Homo sapiens: one gene and its partners. The protein of the gene in region 4 purifies or fractionates together with the protein of the main gene of each other region. This does not show direct contact. Each region holds a gene or a part of one and is shown on either strand. Other genes may lie near its edges.

Evidence for each region.
Region 1: the proteins of PPP2R3C (region 4) and CEP72 purify together in Homo sapiens (affinity purification with mass spectrometry; one large-scale study listed by BioGRID and IntAct). This does not show direct contact.
Region 2: the proteins of PPP2R3C (region 4) and CEP131 purify together in Homo sapiens (affinity purification with mass spectrometry; one large-scale study listed by BioGRID and IntAct). This does not show direct contact.
Region 3: the proteins of PPP2R3C (region 4) and MYBL2 purify together in Homo sapiens (affinity purification with mass spectrometry; one large-scale study listed by BioGRID and IntAct). This does not show direct contact.

What each region holds. Positions count from the first base shown.
Region 1 is NC_000005.10:614,495-619,328, reverse strand, and holds part of CEP72 (centrosomal protein of 72 kDa), read right to left. Parts: intron 4,777-4,834; exon of another isoform or gene 4,648-4,776; intron 1,501-4,647; exon of another isoform or gene 1,480-1,500; intron 340-1,479; coding exon 212-339; intron 1-211. UniProt on the Homo sapiens protein: Involved in the recruitment of key centrosomal proteins to the centrosome.
Region 2 is NC_000017.11:81,212,388-81,217,221, forward strand, and holds part of CEP131 (centrosomal protein of 131 kDa), read right to left. Parts: intron 1-4,834. UniProt on the Homo sapiens protein: Component of centriolar satellites contributing to the building of a complex and dynamic network required to regulate cilia/flagellum formation.
Region 3 is NC_000020.11:43,701,161-43,705,994, forward strand, and holds part of MYBL2 (myb-related protein B), read left to right. Parts: intron 1-1,329; coding exon 1,330-1,743; intron 1,744-4,058; coding exon 4,059-4,198; intron 4,199-4,834. UniProt on the Homo sapiens protein: Transcription factor involved in the regulation of cell survival, proliferation, and differentiation. Transactivates the expression of the CLU gene.
Region 4 is NC_000014.9:35,084,972-35,089,315, reverse strand, and holds the end of PPP2R3C (serine/threonine-protein phosphatase 2A regulatory subunit B'' subunit gamma), read left to right. Parts: intron 1-1,305; coding exon 1,306-1,365; intron 1,366-3,537; coding exon 3,538-3,726; 3' UTR 3,727-3,844; downstream 3,845-4,344. UniProt on the Homo sapiens protein: May regulate MCM3AP phosphorylation through phosphatase recruitment. May act as a negative regulator of ABCB1 expression and function through the dephosphorylation of ABCB1 by TFPI2/PPP2R3C complex.

The DNA of each region.
Region 1 (4,834 bases), on a different chromosome or scaffold from region 4:
AAGATATAATCATCGTCATCAGAGGGCGACAACACAACGTAACGTGATGTGTATGAAATGTAGCCCACGGTAAACACAAAAATACGCAACACAAAGTGTACCGTATACAGATGTAAGCAGAGGGTTACAAAACAGACTCCGTTTCTGCTGTGAATGGACTTTCCACTGATGTTGATAGCAATAAATTTTAAGAAAGAGACCTAAAACTTACCTCCAGACTAACCAAGGAGTTGCGCGAGAGATCCAAAGATTTCAGACCTGTTAAACTCATCAGAGAATGTCCCAGGTGGGTGATCTTCTCTTGGTAAGTTCCAGGAATAGACAATGACTGAAGCTCAGCTAAGAATAGAAAAATTGTAAGATTTTAATCTTTTATTTTGAAAACAATTATAATAACGGTCAAGTTCTTGGTGTTGGATATGGAGTAGAAACTGACACAGATTCTTGGTTTAATTCAACTTTACTCAGGCTCCTGAATCTTCTCCTCGGCCATCTGTGCCCTTCCTTGTAAAGTCCAGTTTAGTGCGGCCAAAACCCCCACCCTCAGTATCTGCTCAGGTTCCTCATCCCCAGATCCCATAGGTGGTGTCTGCTCACCCTGGCCTCTCTTTCGCAATAATCCTGTTCAGTTGGTTTAGCCCAAATCCCCTTACTCCTCATGTGTCCTCTCAGTCATTTTCCATCCACTGCCCCCACCCTGACCCTAGGCTATAAACTCCCCCCGGCCCCTGCTGTACTTGGAGTTGAGCTCCATCTCTCTCCCCCACTGCAAAATCCCAGCGCAGTGGCCCCAGGCCCACCTCAATGGTTCTGAATAAAGCCTTCCTCACTGTGCCTGACAAGGGTCATTCAAAACATTTCTTCCTCTAACAGTATATGTAAAAAGATTGAAAGACAAACTTTAACACATGTGTCCTATTGTGGAATAAATCCCTTTATTTTCCCTCTTACACATTTCTGTATTTTCAGCTTTTCTCAGAGAGATATGTATCCTCGTAATCTGAAAGAGGCACCTAGAACTCAGTGCAACTCCTTTGGAGTTGGAATATCAGCACTGACGAGCAAGGAACGTACCTGAAGTTTCGGCTTATGTTTATCTCTACAATACCTCCAAGCCCACACGCTTCTTCCCACCTTTACTGCCTCTCCCTCCAAAACCGTCTCTCCCCAGGAACACCCCTCTACTTCATCTCCCGCCTCCACTTCTGGCTGCTCAATTCTGTCACCCCTTGCAGCCATCACCATCTGAAACCCACTCGTCGGGTAACCTGTCTGCTGTCCTCCTGTTACAACTGTGGTCGGGCTGTGCAAGCTCCACGCACCCCATAAGCAGTCACTACATCAACATTAATTACAAGATGAAAGTTTCCGTAATCAAAAAGGCAGTTTAGATCCGAATACATCAATACTTTCCTGGGAACATTTATGTTTTAGAATATGTTTTGGTTTTTTTGTTTTTGTTTTCAGATGGAGTCTTACTCTGTTGCCCATGCTGGAGTACCGTGGTGCGATCTCGGCTCACTGCAACCTCCACCTCCTAGGTTCAAGTGATTCTCCCGCCTCAGTCTCCTGAGTAGCTGGGATTACAGGGACACGCCACCACATCCGGCTAAAACCCCACGTTTCCCTGTTTCCTCAGGTAGCCCTCAGGCATCGTCTCAGGTGCAGCTAAACAGCAGGATGCTGCCTGGTTTTGCCCCACTTGGAGGCACACAGACAAGCAGTTCATTGTCCCCCACACCCTGCCACCGGGACAGGGTCAGGAGGGGACAAGGTGCAGTGACCTTTGGCTCATGTTACTGAAAGAAAAGGGTTTCCGTGACAGTCTTGTGGTTTCCTGACCATGTTGGCCAGGCTGGTCTCGAACTCCTGACCTCAGGTGATCCATCCACCTCGGCCTCCCAAGACTACAGGCATGAGCCACCACACCCAACCAGAATATGTTCTGATTAAGTTTAAAATTTGGTTTGAGCTCTTCCAGTTCCAGGCAACATGGAGAGGACACATTTCAACCTGCTCCTCCCGCATATTAGACCCACTGCCCTGGAGGAAAATATACGGAACAAGCATTGGGGGACTGAAAGGAACAGAAGCCAACCAGCCAGGGGCCTCGGCACTCGAGAGAGAACCCAGCGCTGAGTCCCTGGCTTGACTCTGGGGTTTTGTTTATGCTTATTTACTACACATCCCACTCTGGGTGCCACAGAAGTCGGCAGCCCAGAAACACAAAAAGACCAAAAACCGTAAGCCTGCTCTCGATGGCCAAAGGACCAGGAGGGGCCTGGCAGGACAGACTCTCTGTACATCATCAGCCCTCCTGCAACCACACACACTGTTCACATCATCAGCCCTCCTGCAAGCAAACCCCCACCCACACACACAACAACACATACACACACGCACACACCCCTCGTCCACTTGGCACCAGGAGGGGCCTTGCAGGACAGACTCTCTTCACATCATCAGCCCTCCTGCAAGCAAACCCCCACTCGCGCGCACACACACACACACATACACACACACACACACACACCCCTCGTCCACCTGGCCTTGCGCAGCAGCCAGCACCGGGGTGTGAGAATGGATCCTGACTGCTGTCCCGGCCTGGCTAGAACGAGGTGGTGCCCTTCACTCTCCCAGCCAGTAGGGTCTGCCAGAGGCCGTGGGTGAGGCAGGAGCTCCATGACTGTCCCGGCAACAAGGTGGCACCCAGCAGGCTCGAGTGAGGAGTCTTCTCAAGTAAGGGGATTTAAACAGGAAGCAGAGTCTCATGACATCATACCCAGCATGTCCACAATATGATAAAAAATGACCAAGAACCAGAAAAATGGCAATTTGAATGAGAAAACACAGTCAATCAACAGATACCACCAAGAGAGAACACAGAACTTAGGTCTAACAAGGATTTTAAAGTGACTGTCATAAAAAATACTTCAATGAGCAATTACAAACACCTGAGACAAAGGAAAAACTAGTCTTAGCAAAGAAACAGGAGATATAAAGAAGAAACAAATAGAAATTTCAAAGAAAAATACAATAACAAAAAATCACAAGAGCAGTTTAATAGCAAAATGGAGATGACAGATGAAAACTGTAAAACCGTAGAGAAAAACTAAGAGAATCTGTCACAAGCAGACCTGCCCTAAGACAACTGCTGAAAAAATTTTTTCAAATATAAAGGAAAAACGAAAGAAACCTAGAGCATCGTGGAATGAAGAAAAAATAACAGAACAGATAAACATGCAGATAAATATGTTTCCTCCTGAGTTACTGAAAAGGCTAGGTATTTAAAAAAAATCATAATATTAATACGGTTCTCAAGGTATGCAGAGGAAATACTTAAGACAACTAAATTGTAAAGGGGAGAGGATAGAGACCTAAATGGTGATAAAGTTTCTATATTTCACTTAGAAGTAGTAAAATACCTGTACAAGTAAACTGTGTTGAATTACATAAATACATTGTAATTTGTATAGCCACCACTATGAAAACCATACAAGGAGATATACACCAAAACATAACAGATAAATCAAAATGAGATACTAAAAATATTCGAGTAAGTCACAGCAGGCAGGAAAAGGGAAACAGAAGAAAAAACACAGGAAACAATCAAAAAACAATAAAATGGCACACTTAAGTTCTAATATTTAACAATTAGATTAAATGTAAATGGCCTAAAACACTACTACAAGACAGAGATTAGCAGAGTGAATAAAAATAATGAACCAGGAAACTAATTTCAAATATAAAGATACAGGTAGGTTAAAAGTTCAAAGCAATGGATAGGAAAAGATACGCCATGCAAAAACCAATCAAAAGAAGCTACCGTAACAACAGTAATATCAAATAAGACAGATGTCTCAACAAAGAAAATTACCAGGAAAAAAGAGGAACAAGGCCCAGGCACCGTGGCTCACACTTGTAATCCCAGCACTTTGGGAGCCCAGCAGAGATCACCTGAGGTCAGGAGTTCGAGACTAGCCTGGCCAACATGGTGAAACCCCGTCTCTACTAAAAATACAAAAATTAGGCAGGCGTGATGGCAGGCGCCTGTAATCCCAGCTACTCGGGAAGCTGAAGCAGAGGAATCATGTGAACCCGGGAGGCAGAGGTTGCAGTGACCCAAGATCGTGCCACTGCACTCCAGCCTGGGGGACAAGAAGGAAACTCTGTCTCAAAAAAAAAAAAAAAAAAGAGGAAGACTACATATACTAAAAGGGTCAGTCCACTAAGAAGGTATAAAAATCCTAGCTATGTAATTCAACAAACAGAGCTTCAAAACATACAAAGTGAAAAAAAAAACAGACAAATCCACAATTACAGTTAAGGGTTCCAGACCCCTCTCTCAGTCATTAATAGAGTCACTAGACAGAAAATCAGCAAGGATACAGAAGAACTGAACAATATCACCAACCAACAGGATCTAATTGATATTTATGTATTTACATAACACTCCACTCAACAACAGAATACACACACACTCAAGTGCACCTGGAACATTCAACAACATAGACCAGATGCTGGATCATAAAACAAACCCTGACAAATTTAAAAGAATTAAAATCATACAGATTATGTTCTGGCCATAATGGAATCACACAGAAAAATAACAGGAAAATATCCACACATGGAACGTTAAAAACATACTCCTTAAAAATCCACAGGTCAGGCCGGGCGCGGTGGATCATGCCTGTAATCCCAGCACTTTGGGAGGCCGAGGTGGGCGGATCATGAGGTCAGGAGTTCCAGCTACTCGGGAGGCTGAGGCAGGAGAATGGCATGAACCCAGGAGGCAGAGCTTTCAATGAGCCAAGATTGCGTCACTGCACTCCAG
Region 2 (4,834 bases), on a different chromosome or scaffold from region 4:
TAAAATCAGAGGTGGAGGGCGAGGTGCTGTCCAAGCAGCCCTGGACAGGAGTGGGGCCCGTGCAGAGGGACTGTTCCGAGTAGCCCCGGGCAGGAGTGGGGCCTGTCAGCCTAAAGGCAGAGGGGCTCTTCCTAATAGCCCTGGGCAGGAGTGGGGCCTGTGCAGAGGGGCTGTCCCGAGGAGCCGTGGGCAGGAGTGGGGCCCGTGCAGAGGGGCTGTCCCAGAGCATAGCACAGCATTGGTGGTGTTCTTCCCATGGGGTTTGGGTTATCCACTGTGACACCACCTTACACACCTTACACACACACAGGAGCTAAACCAGGGACAGCAGACGATGGGGCCGCATCCTCACTGCAGGAGGGGAGGTTACAATCAGCAAGCGTCGGGGGGGCGAGAGGTGCCACTAGCGGCAGAGACATCAGTAGGACGCACAACACCAATGGTTACTAGGTAGGTTACTATCTATAGACAGTGTGTATATTACACACCAACTGGCGTACACTACATACTTCCTTGCTCTGTTGGCTGAGAAGACCAGAAACAGCCCAGTAGGGACAAGCACACCCAGCTCCCAGACCTTGGTCTCTGAGACCACTCTCCAAGAAAAAGAACCGGGGCTTCTTGAAGAAATGGCTGATTCTAGGACTGGAGGAGGAAATAGACAAGATGAGGCTGGAGCAGTTTATAGGGCCAGAAATAAGGACGTGCTCAGAAGACAAAGTGATGGGCAATGACACAGGGACCCAGGAGCCACCTGAAAGTTCCCAGTGGCCAAAGCTGTGACAATGAGAGCAACAAAATAAGCAAACTAGCATTGAATTATAACTTGAAGTGTAAAATAAATATCCACGAGTCCATTATAATAAATGATTGAAAAAATTAATAAGTGGGGCCAGGTGCAGTGGCTCATGCCTGTAATCCCAGCACTTTGGGAAGCCAAGGCAGGAGGATCACTTGAGGTCAGGAGTTCGAGACCAGCCTGGCCAACATGGTGAAACCCCATCTCTACTGAAATACAAAAATTAGTCAGGTGTGGTGGCACACGCCTGTAGTTCTAGCTACTCAGGAGGCTGAGATAGGAAAATCGCTTGAACCCGGGAGGCGGAGATTGCAGTGAGCCAAGATTATGCCACTGCACTGCAGCCTGGGCGACAGCGTGAGACACTGTCTCAAAAAAAAAAAAAAATTATAAATGAGGGTGAACAGACAAATCTCCTGTGTAGAAGAATTCCAAATAACTTCTATAGATGCTCTTCTCTAAAGGAGGGGGAGCAAAACTCCCCACCCCTTCCATGTGGGCTGAACAAAGCGACTTCCTTCCAGAGAGCACAGGGGATGGGCGACCTCACAGTGGAGAAGCCTGACCCTCCACCTTGGCCAGGGGACCAAGGCCAGCAGCATCACCAGTGAGAGGTCACATGGACAGTGTGGACCCCAGACAGGATGGGGTGAGAAGAGTACTTTACCTCTGTGGCCTTCCTCCTAGAACCCATCCACCACCCAGTCTGATCACGAGAAAAATATCAGGCAAGGGCCAACAGGGGGCCATTCTGTAAAATCCCTGACCAGCTCTCCCCAAAACTCGAAGGTCATCAAAAACAAGGAGAGTCTGAGAAACTCACAGCCCAAACAAGCCTGAGACCCACAGCCCAAAAATCATGTGGGATCCTGGGACAGAAAAGAAAAACTGCAAAAATACAAATCAAGTGTGGACTTTAGTCAGTGATTTACCAATAATGACTTGTTAATTGTACACGTCCCATCATAATGTAAGATATTCAAATAGCAGAGACTGGGTGCGGTACAGGGGAACACCCTGCACTTTCCAATTTTTCTATAAATTTAAAACTATACTAACATAAAAGGTTTATTTTTAAAAATCGTACAGTCACGCCGGAGGCTCACGCCTGTAAGCCCAGCACTTTGGGAGGCCAAGGCGGGCGGATTCACTTGAGGTCAGTAGTTTGAGACCAGCCTGGCCAACATGGTGAAATCCTGTCTCTACTAAAAATACAAAACTTAGCCCGGCATGGTGGCAGGCGCCTGTAATCCCAGCTACTCGGGAGGCTGAGGCAGGAGAATCACTTGAACCCAGGAGACAGAGATTGCGGTGAGGTGAAATCACACCATTGCACTCCAGCCTAGGTGACAGGAGTGAAACTTCATCTCAAAAAAGAAAAAGAAAAAAATAAAATAAAAAGTAAAAAGTAAACTAAAAGGTAGTACAGTCAGATATCTTTTGTTACATATGGATCCTGTAAAGGCCAAAACTGTGCTGCACGTGTGCCAACCAGAGCACGAGGGAGCAGGCCCCGTGGCACCCTGTGATGCGAGTGTGACTTAGGGCAATGATCTTTACGGACAGCAACTTGGCAATGCCTATCAAAAAAAAAAATTTTTTTTGAGACGGAATCTCGCTCTGTCGCCCAGGGTGGAGTGCAGTGGCGCGATCTCGGCTCACTGCAAGTTCCGCCTCCTGGGTTCACGCCATTCTCCTGCCTCAGCCTCCCGAGTAGCCGCGACTACAGGTGCCTGCCACCACGCCCGGCTAATTTTTTTTTTTGTATTTTTAGTAGAGATGGGGTTTCACCGTGTTAGCCAGGATGGTCTCAATCTCCTGGCCTCGTGATCTGCTTGCCTCAACCTCCCAAAGTGCTGGGATTACAGGCATGAGCCACCGCGCCTGGCCAAAAATTTACAATTTAGTTTTAATTTTAATTTTAAAAGATAGAGTCTCACTCTGTTGCCCAGGCTGGAGAGCAGTGGCATGATCATAGCTCACTGCAGCCTCAAACTTTCTGGGTTCAAGCCATCCTCCTGCCCCAGCCTCCCATGTAGCTGGGACTACAGGCATGCACCACCACACTCGGCTAATTTTTTAATTTTTTTGTAGAGACAGGGGTCTCACTATGTTGCCCAGGCTGGTCTCAAACTCCTGGCCTCAAGTGATCCTCCCACCGCAGCCACGCAAAGTGCTGGGATTACAGATATTGGCCACCACTCCCGGCCCCCTTTCAAATTTTTTTATTTATTTAATTTTTTTTGAAATGGAGTCTCGCTGTCACCCAGGCTAGAGTGTGGTGGTGCGATCTTGGCTCACTGCAACCTCCAGCTTCCGGGTTAAATCAGTTCTCCTGCCTTAGCTTCCTGTGTAGCTGGCATTACAGGTGCCTGCCACCACGTCCAGCTATTTTTTCTATTTTTAGTAGAGACGAGGTTTCACCGTGTTGGCCAGGCTGGTCTCGAACTCCTGACCTCAAGCAATCTGCCCACCTCGGCGTCCCAAAGTGCTGGGATTACAGGCACGGGCCACCGCACCTGGCCCCCCTTTCAAAATTTTAAATGGACTTATGCTCTGACCCAGTAGTTATCCTTTAGGATTTATTCTACAGGCGTATTTACATGTATGCAAAATGGCAAAGACACAGGGTATTTGCTGTGCCACTCTTGGTACTATGATAAGGAAAATCCAGAGGAGCACTGGGTGAAGTTCTGGTGCATCATCTGATGAACTATTGTCAGCTGCTACAAAACAATGTAAGGAAAGCGGGAGCAGGGTCAGGTGCAGCGGCCCACACCCGTAATCCCAGCACTTTGGGAGGCCGAGGTGGGAGGATCGCTTCAGCCCAGGAGTTAAGGACCAGCAACCTAGTGAGACCCCTGTCCCTACAAAAAAATTAAAAATTAGTAGGCTGGGTGTGGTGGCTCACACCTGTAATCCCAGCACTTCGGGAGGCTGAGGCAGGAGGATCACCTGAGGTCAAGAGTTCAAGACCAGCCTGACCAACATGGCGAAACCCCGTCGCTACTAAAAATACAAAATTAGCCGGGCATGGTGGTGCATGCCTGTAATCCCAGCTTCTTGGGAGGCAGAGGCAGGAGAATCCCTTGAACCCGGGAGGCAGAGGCTGCAGTGAGCCGAGATCTCACAAATGCACTCCAGCCTGGGCAAAAAGAGCAAAAGTCTGTCTCAAAAGAAAAAAAAAATTAAAAATTAGCTGGGCAGGGTGGTGAGCACCTGTAATCCATGCTACTCAGGATGCTGAGGTAAGAGGATCACTTGTGTCCGGGAGGTGGAGGCTGCAGTAAGCTGTGGTTTCTCCACTGCACTCCAGCCTGGGCAACAGAGCAAGACCCCGTCTTAAAAAGAAAAAGAAAAGAGAATGCAGGAGCCCCACGCAGCTGACGGATACGGCACTTGTTCCAACACATCTCCAGCATCACTGATGCCTGTGTGCCCAGAGTAAGTGTGGGTGCAGGAGAAACAGAACAGTGGCCGCCTAGGAGAGGCCCGCAAGGTCGGGCAGGACAGGCTCACTGCTCAATGAGCCCCCTTTTCCCAAATGGTGGGTGTGAATGGCCTATTCAAAACACATGGTAGGAATTTTGAAATCATCCCCCAAAATGGCACCAGTCATTGCATCAGGGCCATGGGATTATGGGTGCCCTTCATCCTGTCTCCATTTTCCTGGGGTCAGTTTCGCAGCCTCCAAGAGGAAGATAAGGGATGTCAGGGGAGGGATGAAGGGGCTGCCACTCACTGACGGACACCACGGTGGAAAGGCACCACTCATGCTCAGATGGTAAATCAAGTCATGGACTAAAAACCCTAAACTCCACCTGCAAGAAGGAGGCAACATCGCCCAGGGAGGGGCAGGTGGCCCCCATGGCCATGACACATATGCACAGTGATGTCTGTTCCCCAGTGAGCTTGTGCTCTTGGGATTTAAAGACCTCTTTTCTTTAAGGGGAAGGGAACCAGAGTGAATAATGATCTAGGGGGCTAGAGGATCAGGTGGGCACACAGCTGGGGCAAGGAAGAGGGACCCTCTAC
Region 3 (4,834 bases), on a different chromosome or scaffold from region 4:
GCTCAGAGCTCAGGCTCTTTCCACAATGACCTTCAGCGCCTGTTGGGGGAGTTACTGCGTGTGTGGAAATCCCATCTTCCCTCCTCTGCTCCGTCCACTTCAGTGGTCCTTGTAGGATGTACTTCTGGTCTACCAGACACTGTCGGTGCTGGGTCCTCCCTGAATTGGGGTGTGGGCCTGAGGTCGGTCCTGCCCCCCAGCTGGCCTCCACCCTTAGGAGTGAACTACCCCAGGGAACCAGAACTCGGCTTTAGTGTCTGGGTCCACTCAGAAGCCAGAACCCAAAGACCAAAGTGGAAGCCTCTGTGTCCAGAAGCCTTTTGGTTTGTGTTGTGATTTATTGGGTAAAGGAGGGAAAACCTGTAGTGACTCACGGGCTTGTTCTAGAAGCTGAGTGAGTAACTTTGGGAAGACCGAATCCCCTTAGCTCAGCTTCCTTGGTATGAAAGGGAAAGTAATGCTTCCCTAGCAGAATTGTGGGGATTGGAAATAACTTTTGTGAGCTGCCCCAAGGAGGCATCAATGATGAGTGACATCCCATTCACTGCTCTATATTTCGTTCTATAAAAATATCTGCAGGCTGGGTACTGTGGTTCATGTCTGTAATCCCAGCACTTTGGGAGGCTGAGGTGAGAGGATCACGTGAGCCCAGGAATTTGAGACCAGCCTGGGTAACACAGTGAAACACAGTCTCTATAAAAAATATTTTAAAAAATTAGCTGAAGCCGGGTGCAGTGGCTCACACCTGTCATCCCAGCACTTTTGGAGGCCAAGGTGGTCAGATCACCTGAGGTCAGGAGTTCGAGACCAGCCTGGCCAATATGGGTGTGGTGGCACACGCCTGTAGTCCCAGCTACTCAGGAGGCTGAGGCAGGAGAATTGCTTGAACCCGGAAGGCGGAGGTTGCAGTGAGCCGAGGTTGCACCACTGCACTACAGCCTGGGCGACAGAGCAAGTCTCTGTCTCAAAAAAAAGTAAAAAATAAAAAATTAGCCGAGAATGGTGGTACATGTCTGTAGTCCCAACTACTCGGGAGGCTGAGGCGGGAGGATCACTTGAACCCAGGAGTTCAAGCCTGCAGTGAGCTGTGATTGTGCTACTGTACTCCAGCGTAGGCAACAGAGTGAAACCCTGTCTCTTTAAAGAAAAGAAGAATCTATGAAAATATAGATGTATAGTCATAGAAAACTTTGAGGAAATGCATGAAATATTAATGATTGGTCCTGGGCTGTGGGATCATACTTGACACTTAAATATTTCCCGTAATGAATGAGTCCTCTTGTATTAAGAGCATAGTAATTGCAATTCCTAACCTCCCTCCCTGGACAGGACCCTGATGCTTGGTGTGACCTGAGTAAATTTGACCTCCCTGAGGAACCATCTGCAGAGGACAGTATCAACAACAGCCTAGTGCAGCTGCAAGCGTCACATCAGCAGCAAGTCCTGCCACCCCGCCAGCCTTCCGCCCTGGTGCCCAGTGTGACCGAGTACCGCCTGGATGGCCACACCATCTCAGACCTGAGCCGGAGCAGCCGGGGCGAGCTGATCCCCATCTCCCCCAGCACTGAAGTCGGGGGCTCTGGCATTGGCACACCGCCCTCTGTGCTCAAGCGGCAGAGGAAGAGGCGTGTGGCTCTGTCCCCTGTCACTGAGAATAGCACCAGTCTGTCCTTCCTGGATTCCTGTAACAGCCTCACGCCCAAGAGCACACCTGTTAAGACCCTGCCCTTCTCGCCCTCCCAGGTGCGTGGACCCCACTCTGGCTGCTTATTGGGTCGGTACAGACACCTAGTGTTCAGTGCTGGGGCAAGGGTGAGCAAAACGAGACCTGGCTCTGCCCTCATGCAGCTTATGCTCTGGTAGGAAGACCAGGTAACTAAAAAAGACTCAGAAAATGTGATAATCAGGATGAAAGAGAAGGCTTATGGTGCTGCATATGTGTATCTAGTCTGGGCAAGTCCAGGAAGACTGCCAGGAGGAGAAGGAGGATGCTGGTAACTGGGTAATGAAGGAGAGGAAGAGAACTGTCGTGTTTGTTCAGTCCACGTATGGAACCTATTTCACAGCAGACTTACCAGCACTGGGGAGCAAAGATGAAGATGATGGGTTGTCTCCAGCACTGGCTGGCCCTGCCTGGTCCTGGGAAGACCTGGGATAGCCAGTGCTGGGGATGGGCTTGTAATGAATTAACCAGAATAGAGTGTGGGAAGTGCCATGTGATAGCAATTGCGAAGTCACTGAGAACTCACTGTTCTGGGTGTTGCCCCTGGGTGCTCTGTTAGTAACACACAGAGCCTCGGGAGCCGGGATGGGTGCCAGGGTCTCTCTGAGATAGAGGTCATGGGGGGCACCTGGCCTTCCTGCAGAGAGGTGTCTGGGCTGGGTCTCCTTGAGCACCTTGACCAAAGGCACAGAAAAGGAAGGACAGAGTGGATGTGTGGAGTGGTGGGGGGTGGCGCAGGGCCTTGGTGGGCCTAGGTATAACTTAGGGCTTTGGCTCTCATTAGGTTTGTTCTTCCTGTGAGGCTGTGGGAGAGAGCGAGGCCCTGAGGTGGCCTGGTGCAGGAGGCCACCCTGTCATCACGGGTCAGGATGGCTAGTGGCATTTTGAGAGAGACCCTGTGTCGGTTTGCTCCGGCTGCTTAACAGAGTACCACAGGCTCGGTGGATTTGACAAGAAATTCAGCAGTGTTGGTTTCTACTGAGGCCTCTCTCCTTGGCTTGTAGATGCTGGCGGCTCCTGTGTCTTCACGTGGTCACCTGTGTCCTAATCTATTATTTTTTCTTGTAAAACCTCTTATTTTATAATGTTATAAGGACACCCGTTATTGGATTAGGGCCCACTCTAATGACTTTATTTTTTGAGAGTCGCTCTGTTGCCCAGGCTGGAGGCTGGAGGCTGGAGTGCAGTGGCATGATCACAGCTCACTGCAATCTCCACCTTCCAGGTTCAAGGAATTTTCCTGCCTCAGGCTCCTGAGCAGCTGAGATTATAGGCATGAGCCACCATGCCCGGCTATTTTTTTTGTATTTTTAGTAGAGACAGGGTTTCTCCAGGTTGGCCAGACTGGTCTCGAACTCTTGACCTCAAGTGATCCACCTGCCTCGGCCTCCCAAAGTGCTGGGATTACAGGCGTGAGCCACCGCGCCTGGCCTAACTAACCACTTTAAAGGCCCTATCTCCAAGTATTAATACAGTCCCATTCTGAGGTGCTGAGAGTTGGGACTTCAGGATGTAAATTTGGGGGAGACACAGGTCAGCCTGTAACATGCCGCAAGTGAGGGCTGCTGGCTGGAGAAGGAAGGCAGCGGGTCCCTCAGCTACTATTTGGGAAGCTCAGGATGATGGAGCGTGGTCGCTCTACTCCAGAGACCCCATTTAGGGTGGTGACCCTGAGGGTTGCAGATGGCTCTCTATTATAGCACCTTCAGGGCAGGGAGGGAAGAGAGCGGGGTGCTTCAAAGGATGGATGTTGGCTTAGATCTAGATTTCATTCTCACTTCTAGCACTCAGTGCAAGACTCAAAACCTCTCTAAGCGTTGGTTTTCTTATCTGTAAAAGGGGGATAGTAATAGTGCCTATGTCTCAGGATTTGTGGTAACTAATTGAAATTATTTGTGTGAAGTGCTTAGCACTGGCAAGAGAAGGTGCCCTCTAAATGATAACCCCACCGCCACCAGCACACTACAACTGTCACATGCCTTTTGCCTTCACAGGTCAGTTCAGAGCTAGTTTTATTTCTTCTGAGAAGGAGCCACTCTCCCACAGTTGGCTTCCTGTGCCTTAACTGCGTCGTCAGCACTCGAGTAGAGATGGCAAAAGCTAGGATTAGGGTGACGGAAGCCCAGAGGTCTGTGTGAACCTGCTTGGTGGGCTCCTGGCATCGATCTGTCCCAGTCCTTGTTCTCGGGTGTCTGATGGGTCAAGAGGGGACCTCAGTATCAGAGCAGACGTTTTGGGGGAGAGGCTCAAGGATCTCTCCCCATGATCCCCTGAGGTCTCAGGGATACTCATGCAGGTCATCATTTTGTCTTGTTCCCTCTCTCTTCTTTGGCAGTTTCTGAACTTCTGGAACAAACAGGACACATTGGAGCTGGAGAGCCCCTCGCTGACATCCACCCCAGTGTGCAGCCAGAAGGTGGTGGTCACCACACCACTGCACCGGGACAAGACACCCCTGCACCAGAAACATGCTGCGTGAGTGCTGCAGTGCCCCCAACCTTCGCCGTCCTCTCCCTCAGCAACACCAGACCATGGGCCTTGGGACCACTGGTGGAACAGTGGGGAGGGGGCACCCTTGGAATAACACTGAAGACTGTTTTAAGAAAGCCCTCTCCTTTCTGGCCACCACGATTTATCATTTTTATCGATATAGTTTTGGGCTCCACCTTTGCTTTTCCTCATTTGTATTTTTTAATTTGATAGTTTCCTTTTTTGTGATCCTCCTGCCTCAGCCTCCTGAGTAGCTGGGACTCCAGGTGCATGCCACCATGCTCAGCTAATTAAAAAAATATTTATTTATTTATTTATTTATTTATTTATTTATTTATTTATTTTGAGATGGAGTCTTGCTCTGTTGCCCAGGCTGGAGTGCAATGGCGCGATCTTGGCTCACTGCAAGCTCCGCCTCCCAGGTTCATGCCATTCTCCTGCCTCAGCCTCCCGAGTAGCTAGGACTACAGGCATCCGCCACCGCGCTCAGCTAATTTTTTGTATTTTTAGTAGAGACAGGATTTCACCGTATTAGCCAGGATGGTGTCGATCTCCTGACCTCGTGATCCTCCTGCCTCAGCCTCCCAAAATGCTGGGATTACAGGCGTGAGCCACCACACC
Region 4 (4,344 bases):
GCCTGGGCAACATAGGGAGACTCCATCTCTACAAAAAAATTAAAAATTAGCTGGGTGTGGTGGCACATGCCTGCAGTCCCAGCTACTTGAGAGGCTAAGGTGGGAAGATCACTAGAGTCCGGGAGGTCAAGGCTGCAGTGATCCATGATTTGCCACTGCACTACGGCCTGAATGACAGAGTAAGACCCTATCTCTAAAAATAAAAATTAAAAAAACTGAATGCTATATGGGCTTATATCAGCGGCTCATCTGAGAAAATAAATACCAACCCATCATAGGAATGCCCCTACTTTAGACAAACCTATTAGGTAAAAATCCAGTCTTAAGAAAATAAATGTATTTGAAATTAAACACTGCTCTTTTTCATAAAGATTTCTTTACAGTATTTTCTACTCTTAGAATATTAAATTGTTTTAAAACTACTTTAAAAATATTTCATATAGGCATTTTGTCAAAGCTTATTTAGGCTTGGTTATATGGGATAAGGTAAAAAGTGTCCAATGCTGAGCCCTATAATCCTGGGCTGTTCACAGAGCGTTTGGACATCACTATCCTAATGATAAAGCTGGGTCTGGATGATTCACTCTAGATCATACCATCTATTACTATATTAACAGAGCATGTACTCAGATTCTTATCTACTTCAAAGGGATTCCTTTATGGATACTCTGATTATTAGTGGTAACAGAGTAGGCATCGGGAACAAAGTTGACTGTTCACCAAGAATTTGAAACTTCACATTTCCAGTGAATAATGCTCACCTGAAGTATTTTGTATTCCTACTGGATGACAGCAGTTTCTTCATTTTTTTGTTAAAGTTTATGAAAAGGAAGAGTTTTGGGAGGTCTACCTCCATTTCTTGTATTACGTAGAAAGCAAAGTGTAGGGTAGGAAGGGAGACAGTAGATTGGGGATCTTAAGAGAATAGTGAAGGCAGGAATAACATTCATGGAAAATGAGAGGAGCAGATCAAACAGAATAATTGTGAGGCCATGCTGAGGGCCTGTTTGAGGTTGGAGAACATTCCTATGTAGAAGCAGCAATCCGTAATCTTTTTATTTTTTTTCCTGAAGTTCTCAATAGTTAAGATATAGGTCTAAAAAGGTCAATACACTAATCGAGAATTTAGGTTTTGCTCACTGATGTGGAATAAGGTCAAGAAAGCTAAGAAGATTGGCAAGAGAGAGAATGATGAGGTTTGTGGCCTGATAGGAAAGGAAGTATAAGTAGAAAGGGGTTGTAGGGCAAAAGAGGGATGTTGTGTATTTCATTTTTTATTTACAGATTTATTTCTATTAAATACAGGCCATACAGGAACTAATGAAAATCCATGGACAAGATCCTGTTTCATTTCAAGATGTCAAGGTTATCTTTTCCTTTAATTTACGTATTACCAGATAATTATGAGATAGTCATTTGTATTACATGAAATTTTATATGAAAGCAACTAATGAAGTACTATTTGAATCAAGTGTTTGCTTTTTGTTCTGAACTGATATTTAAATCATTACGAACTGAGACCACATTTGGACTATTTATGTAGTTTATAATTTTAGTATTGTCATCATTATGTTTTCATTGGAAGCATTCATTCATTTTAATTAAGACAGTCAGGGGGCCGGGCTCAGTGGCTCATGCTTGTAATCCCAGCACGTTGGGAGGCTGAGGCGGGCGGATCATCCGAGGTCAGGAGTTCAAGACCAGCCTGGTCAACATGGTGAAACCCCGTCTCTACTAAAAATACAAAAATTAGCTGGGCATGGTGGCGCATGCATGTAATCCCGGCTACTCGGGAGGCTGAGGCAGGAGAATCGTTGGAGCCCAGGAGGTGGAGGTTGCAGTGAGCTGAGATTGTGCCACTGCACTCCAGCCTGGACAACAAGAGTGAAACTCCATCTCAAAAGAAAAAAAAGAAAATTAAGACAGTCAGTACAGTCTATATCCTACGGCAGTCTGTTCAACTGTAAACTGATTTTTTACCTTGGAAACTGTTTTAGTATGCTACCTCAAACAGCCTGTTCACTTTTAGTAATTTTGCTACAAATTTTATTTTACTACAAATTTTGTAGTTATTTTACTACAAAAAGATTAGAAAACATGTACTAATTCCCTGTAAATATCTGTTGTACACTTCATAATATAGAAGGAGGTCTTCTATATGTTCCAGTAAGTTTTAGCAGAATTTAGCTTCTTTTTGGATGTCTAATGCATATCCAGAGAAAACTCCCCTCTCCCATCCTAACAAAATGTTGACATCAACATTGGAAATGAAGCTTTGTCACTATCTCTGAAACATTTAGATGTTTAATTGAGTTGAACGGTTAGCAAAAAAAAATTAAACCAAACCCTTGTTAGCCGGGTGTGGTGGTACACGGCTGTAATCCCAGCTATTTGGGAGGTCAAGACAGGAGAATGGCTTGAACCTGGGAGGCAAAGTTTGCAGCGAGCCAAGATCGCACTACTGCACTCCAGCCTGGGACAGAGGGACACTCCATCTCACACACACAAAAAAAGAAGGGGCTGGGCACGGTGGCTCACGCCTGTAATCCCAGCACTTTGGGAGGCCAAGGCAGGCGGATCACCTGAGGTCGGGAGTTCAAGACCAGCCTGACCAATATGGAGAAACCCCGTCTCTACTGAAAATACAAAAATTGGCCAGATGTGGTGGCACACGCCTGTAATCCCAGCTACTTGGAAGGCTGAGGCAGGAGAATCGCTTGAACCCAGGAGGCAGAGGTTGCGGTGAGCCGAGATCACACCATTGCACTCCAGCCTGGGCAACAAGGGTGAAACTCTGTCTCAAAAAAAAAAAAAAAAGGCTGGGCGCAGTGGCTCACACCTATAATTCCAGCAATTTGGGAGGCCAAAGCAGGCAGATTACTTAACATCAGGAGTTTGAGACCAGCCTGGCCAATATGGTGAAACCCCCATCTCTACTAAAAATACAAAAATTAGCTGGGTGTGGTGGCGTGCACCTGTAGTCCCACCTACTCGGGAGGCTGAGGCAGAAGAATCGCTTGAACCCAGGAGGCGGAGGTTGCAGTAAGCCAAGATCGCACTACTGCACTCCAGCCTGGATGACAGAGTGAGACTCCATCTCAAAAACAAAACAAAACAACAAAAACAAAAACTACAGACAAAACTTTGTTTCACCAATTAGAAGGCAACAGAAAAATATATAAGAAACTAGTTAACGTGCAGTCCCTGAACACTGCATTAGATAGTTCTGCCACTAATTACCTATGTAGCTAGATTAGGCACTGAGCCTTGGTTTCTTCATCTATAAAACGAAGGATAGCTATCACATAGCTAAGGAGTTATCCAATAAAATTTTGTGGTTGTAGGTAGAGAAAAGGAAACTGCCTGTTAAATGGAAAAGAAAAAAAGTAGAACAAAAAATTAACATAAGCCCAAGTGGCAGCCCTCAATTTTATTCCTCTGTACTTCAGTGGATGCAAACAGCCCTGAATTTTGGATCACTATGTGTGATAGAAATTAAGTGGATCAAATTTCATTGTATTTTTTTTTCTCTTGCAGGATGAAATCTTTGACATGGTAAAACCAAAGGATCCTTTGAAAATCTCTCTTCAGGATTTAATCAACAGTAATCAAGGAGACACAGTAACCACCATTCTAATCGATTTGAATGGCTTCTGGACTTACGAGAACAGAGAGGCTCTTGTTGCAAATGACAGTGAAAACTCTGCAGACCTTGATGATACATGATCTCTGAAAGACTAGACTGTCTTATATTATGAGATACTTGAATGCTGCATGTAAAGCCTTTAAAGCAAAATCCTCAGAAATGGTCTAAATAAAACACTTGATATGCCTAGAGAACACAGCAAATGTTTTGGTTACTGGAATTTTGGTTGCAATAGTTTAGAAGCAATAGGACCAAATATTGCTTGTTAGGAGGTGGGGTAAGTTCTGGTTCCTTTTAGTTCAAAGATGGGAAGTGTGATTTGCTGTAGGTAGATGATGTTCAGTTTAAATCTGTATAATCTTCAGAGATGAAGTTTCCATGGAATATTTCTGACAGTCATTTAGAATGTGAATATTTGACTGACAGTGCATATATATATACACACAACATGTGTGTGTGTGTGTGTCTATATATATAAAATCTCAAAGATGACAAACTTTCCCATTCATGAGTAGAGCCATTTTATTTCTGGGTTAGGATTAGGATTTTTTTTTAGGGGGGGTCAAGTGATTCTCCTGCCTCGGCCTCCTGAGTAGCTGGGATTATAGGCGCCTGCCAACACACCTGGCTAATTTTTGTATTTTAGCAGAGACAGGGTTTCACCATGTTGGCCAGGCTGGTCTCAAACTCCTGACCTC